2 separate regions of the Homo sapiens genome follow, and region 1 is linked to region 2. The links come from fine-mapping of genetic effects on gene expression. Tissue or cell type: T cells. Region 2 holds a variant in brackets; the other region holds the start of a gene. All regions are shown on one strand. Distances are from middle to middle. Region 1 holds the start of AKAP6 (A-kinase anchoring protein 6). Region 2 has its middle 21 kb from the start of RNU6-8.

Region 1 (5,389 bases), 100 kb before region 2:
TGGCCCTCTACAAAGAAACGAAGAAACAAAACATTAGGATGATAGCTCTCATTACCAGGGCTTTGTTCTCCTGGAGCAAAAAGAGCACAAAAGCATAAAGTTGGAGAACTGTAATTGCATTTTGAACATTTGCGGGGGGAAAAATTACAGGGTTGTCTGAACCGGGAGGATGTTCCACTAGATAACTGCGTCAGTCCACACCCACCAGCGCCCTTCCCCACCCTCAAAGCATGACTCCACTTTTTCTAACACTGCCCTTAAGGAATCTAGCTTTTGTGACTTCCAGTAATTGAACAAATCAACCATGATGAAGCAGCTGAAGAGCACTTTAAACAAAAGAGACAAGAATTAAGCAAACAGAAAACTCATTACAATGCTGCCTTTTGCTTTTTTTTACTCCTAGAAATTCATGTTACCAAACAAGTCTTTCTTCATTGCTCTTCTTCAGAAATAATACTTTAAGAAAATTCTAAAAGGCACTAAGTGATTTTATCCAGATTTATAATCTAGCTACAAGACATACTTTCCCTTCCCCCATCACCATCTAGCACTCTTCCCTGTCACCTTAGAGCTTTCGACTTAGATGTGTTCACACCCAGCAGTCCCAGCAGAGCTTTCTGCTCACATTATATGACATAAAAAAGCAGGCAATGAACAATTCATGCTTCTAAGTGCTTGCGATAAAGCCAGGCTGAGCTGACCTCTCCCATCCTATACAGCTGCATGTCAGAAACATAAGCTTAAAGGACTGAGAGTAGCAAGCATGTGCGTGATGTGGTATAAACAAACAAATTAAAACCTGAGGCCTTTCCTCTGGCTGGTGCCTAATGGGACTAGCATACTTAACTCTGTGCAAAAAAAAAAAAAAAAAAAAAAAAAAAAAATCACTCCAAGCTAGCTAAAGGTATTGCTTTTCCTGCTTTCCATGATATATCTCTTTAGCCCCAATAAACAGACTAAAAGAAGAGGAATTCAATGGTTGCCATTCTTTCGTGTAAGACTTTTTGAGTAAAAACTATCAATTTGGCAGCATTAAGCCACAAGACCACTCCCTGATTCTAAGTGGACATATTGATCAATTGAACTGACATGTGCCTCCTCCTTTCTCTCCCCTAGTAGCAATCAGCTGTACCAGGGAAATCCATTTCATTTCCCAAAACAAAAGGCAACATTCTGCTCCTTATCTGACACTGTCAGACTAATTTTTTAGAAAATAATAATAATAATAAAGATGCCTAAAAACAGAGCTAGGAGTTGAAATGAAAATGATACGTGTTTAGAGTTTTGGAATTGAGTTGAGGTTATGACTGAGTCCAGAGGTCTGTAATCCCTACAACCACTGAGGACCCTGATATTTATTCATCATACCCAGATTTTTGTTAAAGTTAAGCAAGGGATGGCAACACCACTGCCACTTCAGAGGCTCTCCCAGGGTTACCCTTCACTGCAACTGCCGCAGAGAGGAGACTTGTTCCTTTCTCAGTTACAAGTCAGCCTGCAAACAACTCCAGCTATTTCAGAGACTAGCTAGAGATGGAAAAATATGTGGCAGTCTTTCAACTAACTCTGAAGGACATGGGTTGAAGAACTACCATATAGATCAAAAGGCTCAAATAATTTCATTTGGTTTAGGTTTTTATGCTTTTAATAAATTCTGTCTTGAATATGCAAGAGATCCCCTTTCACATCAGGGTTATGTCAAATGCTTATTCAGCATTTGTTCCTTGCCATGAAGAAACTGAAACCCAACCGAGGTAAATAATGAATTTCATACTGCAAATCACTGAATATTTCATAATTCACAAGAGCAAAGAGGGGGCCAATTAGCTCTGCCTCCCAAAAAGAAATCTATATTTTTACAATGCTTAAATACTGTTAACTACTCATTTTAAAGCTTATCTGGGGTTTTGCAATTGAAAAATCATCTTATGTTTATGAAAAATTCTGTAAGAACACTTAAAAATAACAGACAGAGCTGGAGCAAGAATAATTCTACATATTTTAATTCCTATATGACTCTTACAGGCCTTTGTCTTAACCCGGCAGCCTGAAAAACGATTTAGGTAAAACAGCCCTTCTTTCCCCAGTCCATTTTAAGCAGAGACAACATCCCCCAATCTCCGCCTTAGCAGACACCGACTAACCAACAAAACAGCCGTGCAATTAAGGCCCAGACATTTAACACTCACCATCTCCTGATCCCACCGTCTTCTTTTGATGTTTACAGCACATCTGTAGGATGCAATACTAGGAGATGCCTTGTTTGACCTGCTGCATGATGCTGTGACATCAGTTCAGATGATGCAGCTCATTATGGGAAAGACTGCTGTTGCTATGGCAACTGGGATGTGCTAGGAATCCTTGCTGCATTTCCAGTGGAGCCTGAGACAATACGGAAGCCCTGTAAGAAACAGACGATATGCAAAATTTAGACCAAAGGAAGAGGATTCCTCATTGGACTAAAATCCATAGGTTTAAAAGGGATTTCCCTGAAAGCATTTTGGAAAAAACAAAAATTATCTCCCCCTTTGTTGTTATACATTTAGAAAAAAAAGGTGGGAGGAGAAAATAGAATTAGTACTAAGCAAATAAAAACTGAAATGTACAATGTTTCCTTATTAGACAATTTGATCACTTTTTCCTCCCTGGTCAGCACTGGGATAGCTTTTTAAAAGTTATTAAAAAGAATTTTTGCTCATCTGTCAAAGACCAAAAGAACAAAACAGCGAGCACAAAAATAATTAAAAATGGAATATAAACAGCTGACCAAATGACTCTAACTCTCAAGTAAACAAGTTTTAATTCTCAAAACATGGGCAAACCCTTGGCCAATGAAGTCTGTCCTGGTTATTTTCCCTGATGAACACCAACCCACAGAACCTTCCCATGCAGAATAAACCCAGCTTTCACCTGGTCATCAGATAGGCAGCAAAGGGAAGTTTGGAATCTAGAGGGGCACAACACACCACCCTCAACTTCTACTGACCCTTCCTTTGGCCTGCAGGGAACCCCTCCTTCTCATGGCCAAAACGCATGTGAGTCTTTTCTGGGATCAAACCTAGTGGTTGGAACAAGTAGCAGACCTGCTAGAAACTTCCTAAATCGTTGGCATTCCAAACATTGGGGTCTGTTTTCTTCTTTTCTGAACAATAAAACTGCCTACCACACAGATTATTTGTGCCCCTCCCCAACCCCAAAAGCTGGAACTGTGTGAAAAGCCACATTTAAACAAGACACGGTAAGGCATTTCTCCAGTTGGTAAAAGAAAAGCAAATCTAAAGCAATCACTTCTTTCCAGTCCTGAGCAGAAATCAACGTCATGTGGTGAGAACTGGGGAGAAGGAGATATGGACAGAGCAGCCTATGTTTTGCATATTTAATATTTGCAGGCCATTGATAGAGAAAAGCAGAATCAAGTTGACCTGTATCCACTCCGTCTTCACAACTCTGAAAAAGAACAACATTCCAAAAGCTTAAAACATGAGACAATTATGTTGTCTCCTCCTGCTTGAGATTTTAAAATGGCACTGTTAACCACCAGCATAGGCGGTGTGGGATGAGTGGCAGAAGGAATTCAGGCAGTGTCTCTGTAAACAGGAGCTAATAAAATGCCTGAGAAGTGCCAATATCCCAGCAGCGTGCACCATCAGCCTCGCACAGAGCAACCCTGCCCTAGATGGGAAGACAGACTTGTTCTTGCTTCATCTAGAGAGGAATTAAGAGACCAAAAGCAGGAGGTGAATCTGCCTGCTTAGGTCCTTTGTGGCATCAGCAGAGCCTGACTCCCTCCCTTTATCTTAGACCTCAGACCACATGCCACACACAAGGGGAGAAGTAGCAGGCAGCTACCCCAGTACAAAGAGTACAGATCTGAGAGTCAGGAAACCCAACTGTAAATGTCAGGTCCTCCTAGAGCATCTGTGTGATATCAGGCCAATTGATTAACTTCTTGGGGCCTCAAGTTTTTCATCTGCAGAGATGATTGATTTAGCTAATAACCATAGTTTTCAGGTTTTTCATTAGTAATATAACCTTTCTTTTAATGATACAGATCAAAGCTGGACTGCCTTGGTTGAGGCAAGATAAGAAGCCCAGAGCCCAGACTGATGAGCCATTCTCAACCACTGCCTCCAACCTCATTTGCTGTAAGCTGACTCTTTAAGATACCTCTGAAGAACCCTTCAGTCTCTGGAGAAGATAAAGAGACATGGACCTATTACAGAACAAGATTAGTCTTTCCAGAGCTGAAATCCACATGCTATAAAGAGGAGAGGACAGGGTGGGAGCAGGTGTTCCAGATTTGAATATGGCTTCTCAAGATGGTAAGAATCTTGTTAATCTTTTTTGCCAGAAGCAAGTCAATCATTTGATGGGAAGAAATGGATGGCTCATCAAACCTGAGGCCAGGTCAAACTTTTAGCAACCTGGACTAGCTAAATTGCTTGCCCACAAAATGGCACTCACCAATGAAACGGAAGTAGAAGTGGAAACCATCAACTCCAAAGGTGGCTAAGACCAAGTGTCTCTTCTTCATGTTTTCCTGTCCTGCTAGCTGGATGCAAAGAATCCAGTGGAACTCTGAAGCCCAGAAAGATAATGGCCACACATTGTGGATGGAGCCTGGGTCCCTGAATGACTGCATGGAGCTCAACCATCCTCTCCCAACTACCTATTGACCTACACTGGGCTGCAATGAGTGAGAAACAAACACCACCAAGATTTTGGGGTAGTTTATTCTGAACAAATTATCCATTTATAGATAAAATTATAATTTAATAAAATATAAATTTTCTAACAAGATTATATTATATATCATTATTTATGATAAAGTGACAGTGTTAAAAACATGTTCCTTTATTGCAGACTTTCTTTTTTTATTTTATATTACTTTAAGTCCTGGGATACATGTGCAGAACATGCAGGTTTGTTACATAGGTATACATGTGCCATGGTGGTTTGCTGCACCTATCAACCCATCATCTAGGCTGTAAGCCCTGCATGAATTCGCTATTTGTCCTAATGCTCTCCCTCACCTTGCCCACAACCCCCCGAAGGGCCCTGGTGTATGGTGTTCCCCTCCCTGTGTCCATGTGGTCTCATTGTTCAAATCCCATTTATGAGTGATAACATGCAGTGTTTGATTTCCTGTTCCTGTGTTAGTCTGATGAGAATGATGGCTTCCAGCTTCATTCTTTTTTATGGCTGCATAGTATTCCATGGTGTACATGTGCAACATTTTCTTTATCCAGACTATCATCGATGGGCATTTGGGTTGGTTCCAAGTCTTTGCTATTGTAAATAGTGCTGCAATAAACATACATGTGCATGTGTCTTTATAGTAGAATGATTTATAATCCTTTGGGTATATACCCAGTAATGGGATTGCTAG
Region 2 (5,389 bases):
GACCACCTATCTGGAATCAAAGGGCTGTATTCTGTGTCTTTGCTGATTCGGGAATGTGCCTTGATAATGGAGACAAAGATCTTGGTGGTAGTTTTCCTTCTTCTTGGTAGGCTTAATATTACTACCGTTGAAAAAAGGCAACCACTCTGGGCAAATAACAAAAAGTCTCCCCTTCCTCCTGACTGACTGAGGGAAGGGGCACATACTTGGGTGACTAGAGATGGGCTTTGTGCAGGGACACTGCATGTCCATGCAGACTTGGTCCTTTATGACACCTCTTTGCCCACCAAATTCATGGCTTTCACTACATAAATACATGAAATACTATCTCAAGTTTCTTAACACCCAGACCTAAAAAAGAGGGAGTTGACTTTCCAAATAGAGAAAGTGGCTATAATACATTTTTGCATATATCTTATGTACTTGGAAACTCATTTGAAGTTCCCTAATGCTGCACTATCTTCATTTGTTCATAATGGCCCATCTCTCACCATCTCCATCAGTGAAGCAGAAATTTGTATTGCTCTCAAACACAACACAAATAGAATTCCCAGCAACCGGAGTTTTATCCAGAAACAGTAATGAAACATAATAATCCCAAGCTGACAAGAAGCCCAATGACTATTAATAGAGAGAAACAATATGAAAGTGTCAAATAGGGTAGAAAGCAAGCTACAGCTGGGTTGAAACACTAACTTATTAGGAATAGAATGTAGAATCAAGTGGCAAATTGTCCTACGTCTTATTTTCTTTGCTTTTTGTTAGTCCTGATTGATCCCCATCCAGTTCACGATGGGACACATACTAGCCTAATTTGATTTGGGAGCCAACAACCCAGGTTGTCAGATGCTCCTGTTAAGGCAGGTCCCAGGCCCCAGTTTGGCTGAGTGTTCCTGGGTCTAAGATACCTTTCCTACCATCCATTGCAAAGTGGGGTTGTGTGTATATATTAGCAACAGCAGTAAGCATGACAGTGAAAAGATTAGATGTGGCACCAATTCCATGTTTTACCTGCATCTTTAGAGGACTGAAGATTCTGCTCCGAGGGTAACAGAAAAACCCCACAGAACTGCACATGGAGTGACTTTCATATTTTCCAGACTTTCTGGCAAGGCCTTATTGCTCAAAGGACATTTGAGTGGTTAACACTCAAGTGGTTATACTGCATTCCATCTAAGAACCTTTCAGTGAGTCTTTCAGTATAAGGAAGCATCAAATAAAGGAACTACTGATTTACAGACCAAAGATATGTACTGAGTTTAGAAACATTCAATTATCTTATCTGTGGAAAACAATGTACTTAGCACCAGCATGAGGAAGAGCTTTAAAGATGACAGAGACACAAGAACACTCCCCTCAAGGAACCTTACAAAGGAAAGAAACAGGCATTAACACCAATAGAAAACAAGAGAGGAAGAGAGTCCAGATGTCAGGGGCTGTGATTGCTGAAAGAGAACCAAATTTGGAACTTGCCATATCATCAACACCTTTTATGTATTTTTCATTCCTCTAGAGTAAAACCTTATCTCTTCTTACCTGTCAAGAAGAGAAACTACAATAAACAGAAATATGTGCCTTGGGGAAGATTTGTCTGTACTCTTTTGCTATTCCCTGGACAGAGACCTGGAGGCCTATTTTCAAATTAAGTTGGTTATGATGTGTGTGAATGATACGGTTAGTAAGACAAACTAGGCAATAGATCAAAAAGATAAGAAAGACCCACTAAGGCAAGACTGTGATCCACCTGCCAGCAGTTACCTGAGTTCTATAGCAGGGCTAGGAAGGACATATACCTATTGATCCAAGAAAATGGCACCATAACTGCATGCCCCAAGGCTCTGTCAGTATTTAAACCCTGGGGAGACAGTAATTGTGGTCCTGGCAGGAAAGCCTGTGAAACCAACTGCAGAGCTTCCCAGTATACTAGATTTGAAAATAAGAGGCTTTGCTGATAAGACAAGTGGAGCATTGAAAGTAACTTGGGATACTGAAAATCCTCTGCCAGACTCAATTCAGCTTGATTGTAATTGTTGACTCCAGGCCTATCTCTGAAAGACATCAAACACAAAAAGAAAAAAAAAAATCTGAGAAAAAAAACACAGCTTATTCCATTTGGGGGACAGAAATTGAGACATGTAACAGATGGAATGGGGAAGGGCAAAGGGCTTAATAAGATTCACTACAGGATTAGGCTTTCGTTTGATTAAAACCAGCCTATGCAGGGCAGAGGCAGAACAAAATCACACGGCTCTGACTCATCATGCTTCAGCGTGTGCAGCCACCACCAGGGGGGCAAGACCAGGTGGAAGCCATATATGCACAAGCCCTGCTAAGCAGAATCATAACTGGTGGACTCGGCTCTGAAGGTTTTGCCTTACTTTTCCATGTTATGAAAGTCTAGGCTGAAGAAAGAATAGCTCATATGGTACTAACATAGAAGCTGTCGGCTTTACATTCTCAGTGCCTAATGCAGTGGCAGATGCATCTGTGCTTGAATAACTGTTTTTGAATGAGCAAAGGCCTAACCTCTCAGTTATGTCCATGAGGTCCGGGAGGATGTATAGGTATAGTCTGTGACTAAATGTTCTGATCTGACAGTCCCATAACTTTGTAGCAGCATAATCAGTAATGCCCCCTTTCATGTGCAAAAGTGTGTCAGTTTTCAACTTACCAAAGACCTCTCCCAAAAATTAGTGATAATAAAGAGAAGGAAGAAAAGAGAAAACCTATCTTTCTACAAATAAATAAATGAAAAAATAGCTTGAGTAAGGTCTACATGTGGGTAAGGAGATAGAGTTTCAGCTCTGTGAATTTTTCTTACTATCAGAAAAAAAATATTGACTTATGTGCTTGCTTTTTTAAGCAAGCAGTCTGATTTACTCCTGGGACTTATATCTATTTCCATTTATTTAGATTACCGTTTACACCAGCAGGATTCAAGAACAATTCTATTTTGTTCAAGACAAATCATCGTTCACTCTGGGAAGCCCAAAGACATCATAAAAATAAAGAGATGTAGCAGGAAAAAGGAATGTTAATAAGAACTGGATCCACTAATGGGTTGGGATATTTATGTTTTTTACCTTTTATATTTTACATAAATTTTTTTCAACCTTTCTCTCAGACCACGAATAGGAGTTTATTATCTGGTGTGTAAACCACTTGTGAGCTTCTGGTATGACTGCTAACAAGAAAATAATATTTTCTTTCTTAAGAAAACAAA[G/A]CACAAGACTCATTTGGCCATATCAAATGCAGGACTGAACTAGAAACCTTGAAAAAATAAACGCAATTTCACATAGTATGGCATAAAGTTAGACTCTGAAGATATGGTTTGGAATTCTACTCTGTCTATTCCCAAGTGGCCTTGGACAAATCTCTTGGAGCCTCAGTTTCTCATCTGCACAATTAGGGAGTTGTTTGCTAAAGCTCCATCCATCACTGAAGCTCTATGAGTCTCTGACTTGATCATTTGGTCAGTAAGAACTAATTTCTCCCATCAGCCTTTTAGAGAAGATGGTTCGCTCCCATTCCCTATGCCCACATGCTACTAGTCATCTTCTAACACTCTGAAAAATAGCCCATGGAGGGGCATGGAGGCTCATAACTGTAATCCCAGCACTTTGGGAGGCTGAGGCAGGCAGATGGCTTAAGCCTAGGAGTTTGAGACCAGCCTGGGCAACATGGCAAAACCCTGGCTCTACAAAAAATACAAAAATCAGCCAGGCATGGTGGTATGTGTCTGTAGTCCCAGGTACTCGGGAGGCTGAGGTGGGAAGGATTCCCTGAGCCTGGGAGTCAGAGGTTGTAGTGAGCCAAGATCGCACCACTGCACTCCAACCAGCCTGGGCAACAAAGTGAGACTCTGTCTCCAAAGACATATAAAAATAGCCCCTGGGAAAAAAAAATAAAATAAAAAAAAATAAAAATAGCCCCTGGGATCTCTATGCTCTCTCAATGCCCCCATCTTTCCCTGAATCTGATGCTTTGGATTACACAATTCCATCAGAGTGACTTCTAGTAAATGAAAACTCACCATGCCTGGCTATACCTTGGCTATGGGCTCTCTGAGCACAGCAAAATATTTCAGATCAAAGATTCCATCTGTCTTGAGCTAGAAAATAGTGTCTGAATAACAAAGTTTACTGCAAATTAGCCAGCTCAGGTCCACTACTATGAAATAAATTGGTCAGTCTTCCATGTCTTCCAATATATGTTCAATGGATTCAACAATACAGCAATTTCAACCCCTCTCCTCCTCAGCAAAGAATATTACTTCATTCTACTTACCTAGAAAGGTGCCAACATTCCCTGACTTACTACTTACACCCATTGATTCAAACCTGACTCTTAGATGCGTTTATTTAAAAGAGCCTAAGCAAAGCCTAAAAGTTATTCATTTTCCATTAGTGAGAGTGGATCTTCCAGGATTTTCTGCAGTGACCTTTGTCAACCTGGTTTAAAATGGTGGTCATGATTTGCTAGTAGCCTCTGTTCCTGTGAGGTGGAAACACTTTTATATAGTCAGGCCCCCCAGGGGGGCCTGGCTTTAAACACCTGATTTTAAACATCACTTGGAGATTTCCTGAAAGATCCTTCATAGTACTATTTCTTGGAATTGTGGGGACTGTGAAATAAGATGATGTATTTAAAGCACACAAAGCCTGCATTACAAGAACTCATTTTTTTTTTCCAGTGGATGGGAAAGTTACCTTAGAAGAGGTAGATTGCAGAATTTCTTTTGATGATGATGAGGAAGGATTACTGTGAGTAGGTGGTAAAATGGTAGGGGTAGGAAAGAAGGAATTGAGGCTTATATAGATAGAAAAGTAGAAACGAATGGGAACAGATATAGAATAAAACACGAACACAGTGTGCGAAAGTTCTTCCAGACTCTAGGTTTTCAACATCTCAAATGGCACATTCATGAAAACTTTACTTTCTGGTGGGACTCGAATTCCATCCTCATTACAGAACCTGTAATCTACCTACAAACTTCCCCTTTCTGCTCTCTAAACGTGGCGGTCATAAGAACACACTCTTTGCTCCCTAGTTCTTATGCATAATTTCTCCATCTCCCCCACAGTACCAATAGCATTCACATCTCTACATTTGATTTCTGTAGTCTAAGTGGAAACAGATACCTGAGATTCTATTTTACAGGTAATTTGGTAAATTCCATAATGTCAGGGCCCATGCCCATCTAATTCTCCAGGAATTGTATCCACCACTGCTCTCCTGTATTCGACAGCCCATGTTTGATATTTTCTTTATGGTAATCATGGGAGGCATATATAGACTACAGCATTTGCTCTGTGACTAGCTGAAAACAGCTTCCCATTCAAACATTGTCCCACTCCAAACATCAGTGTTTTCCCCCATCCCTCACCCT

The links. PIP is the estimated chance that this variant, and not a neighbour inherited with it, causes the effect.
Region 1: AKAP6 starts here. The variant in region 2 is the best candidate, but not a certain one, in a credible set for the expression of AKAP6 in T cells (TOPMed, PIP 0.65).

Annotation. Positions count from the first base shown.
Region 1 is chr14:32,326,209-32,331,597 of GRCh38, reverse strand. AKAP6 (A-kinase anchoring protein 6) reads right to left here and starts at 2,300. Exons shown (of 14, transcript NM_004274.5): 1 at 2,190-2,300. RefSeq lists an enhancer at 41-335.
Region 2 is chr14:32,222,052-32,227,440 of GRCh38, reverse strand. No RefSeq gene overlaps it. Among named protein-coding and RNA genes, the nearest start is that of RNU6-8, 21 kb to the right of the region's middle. The variant G/A (reference allele first, on the strand shown) is at 3,224.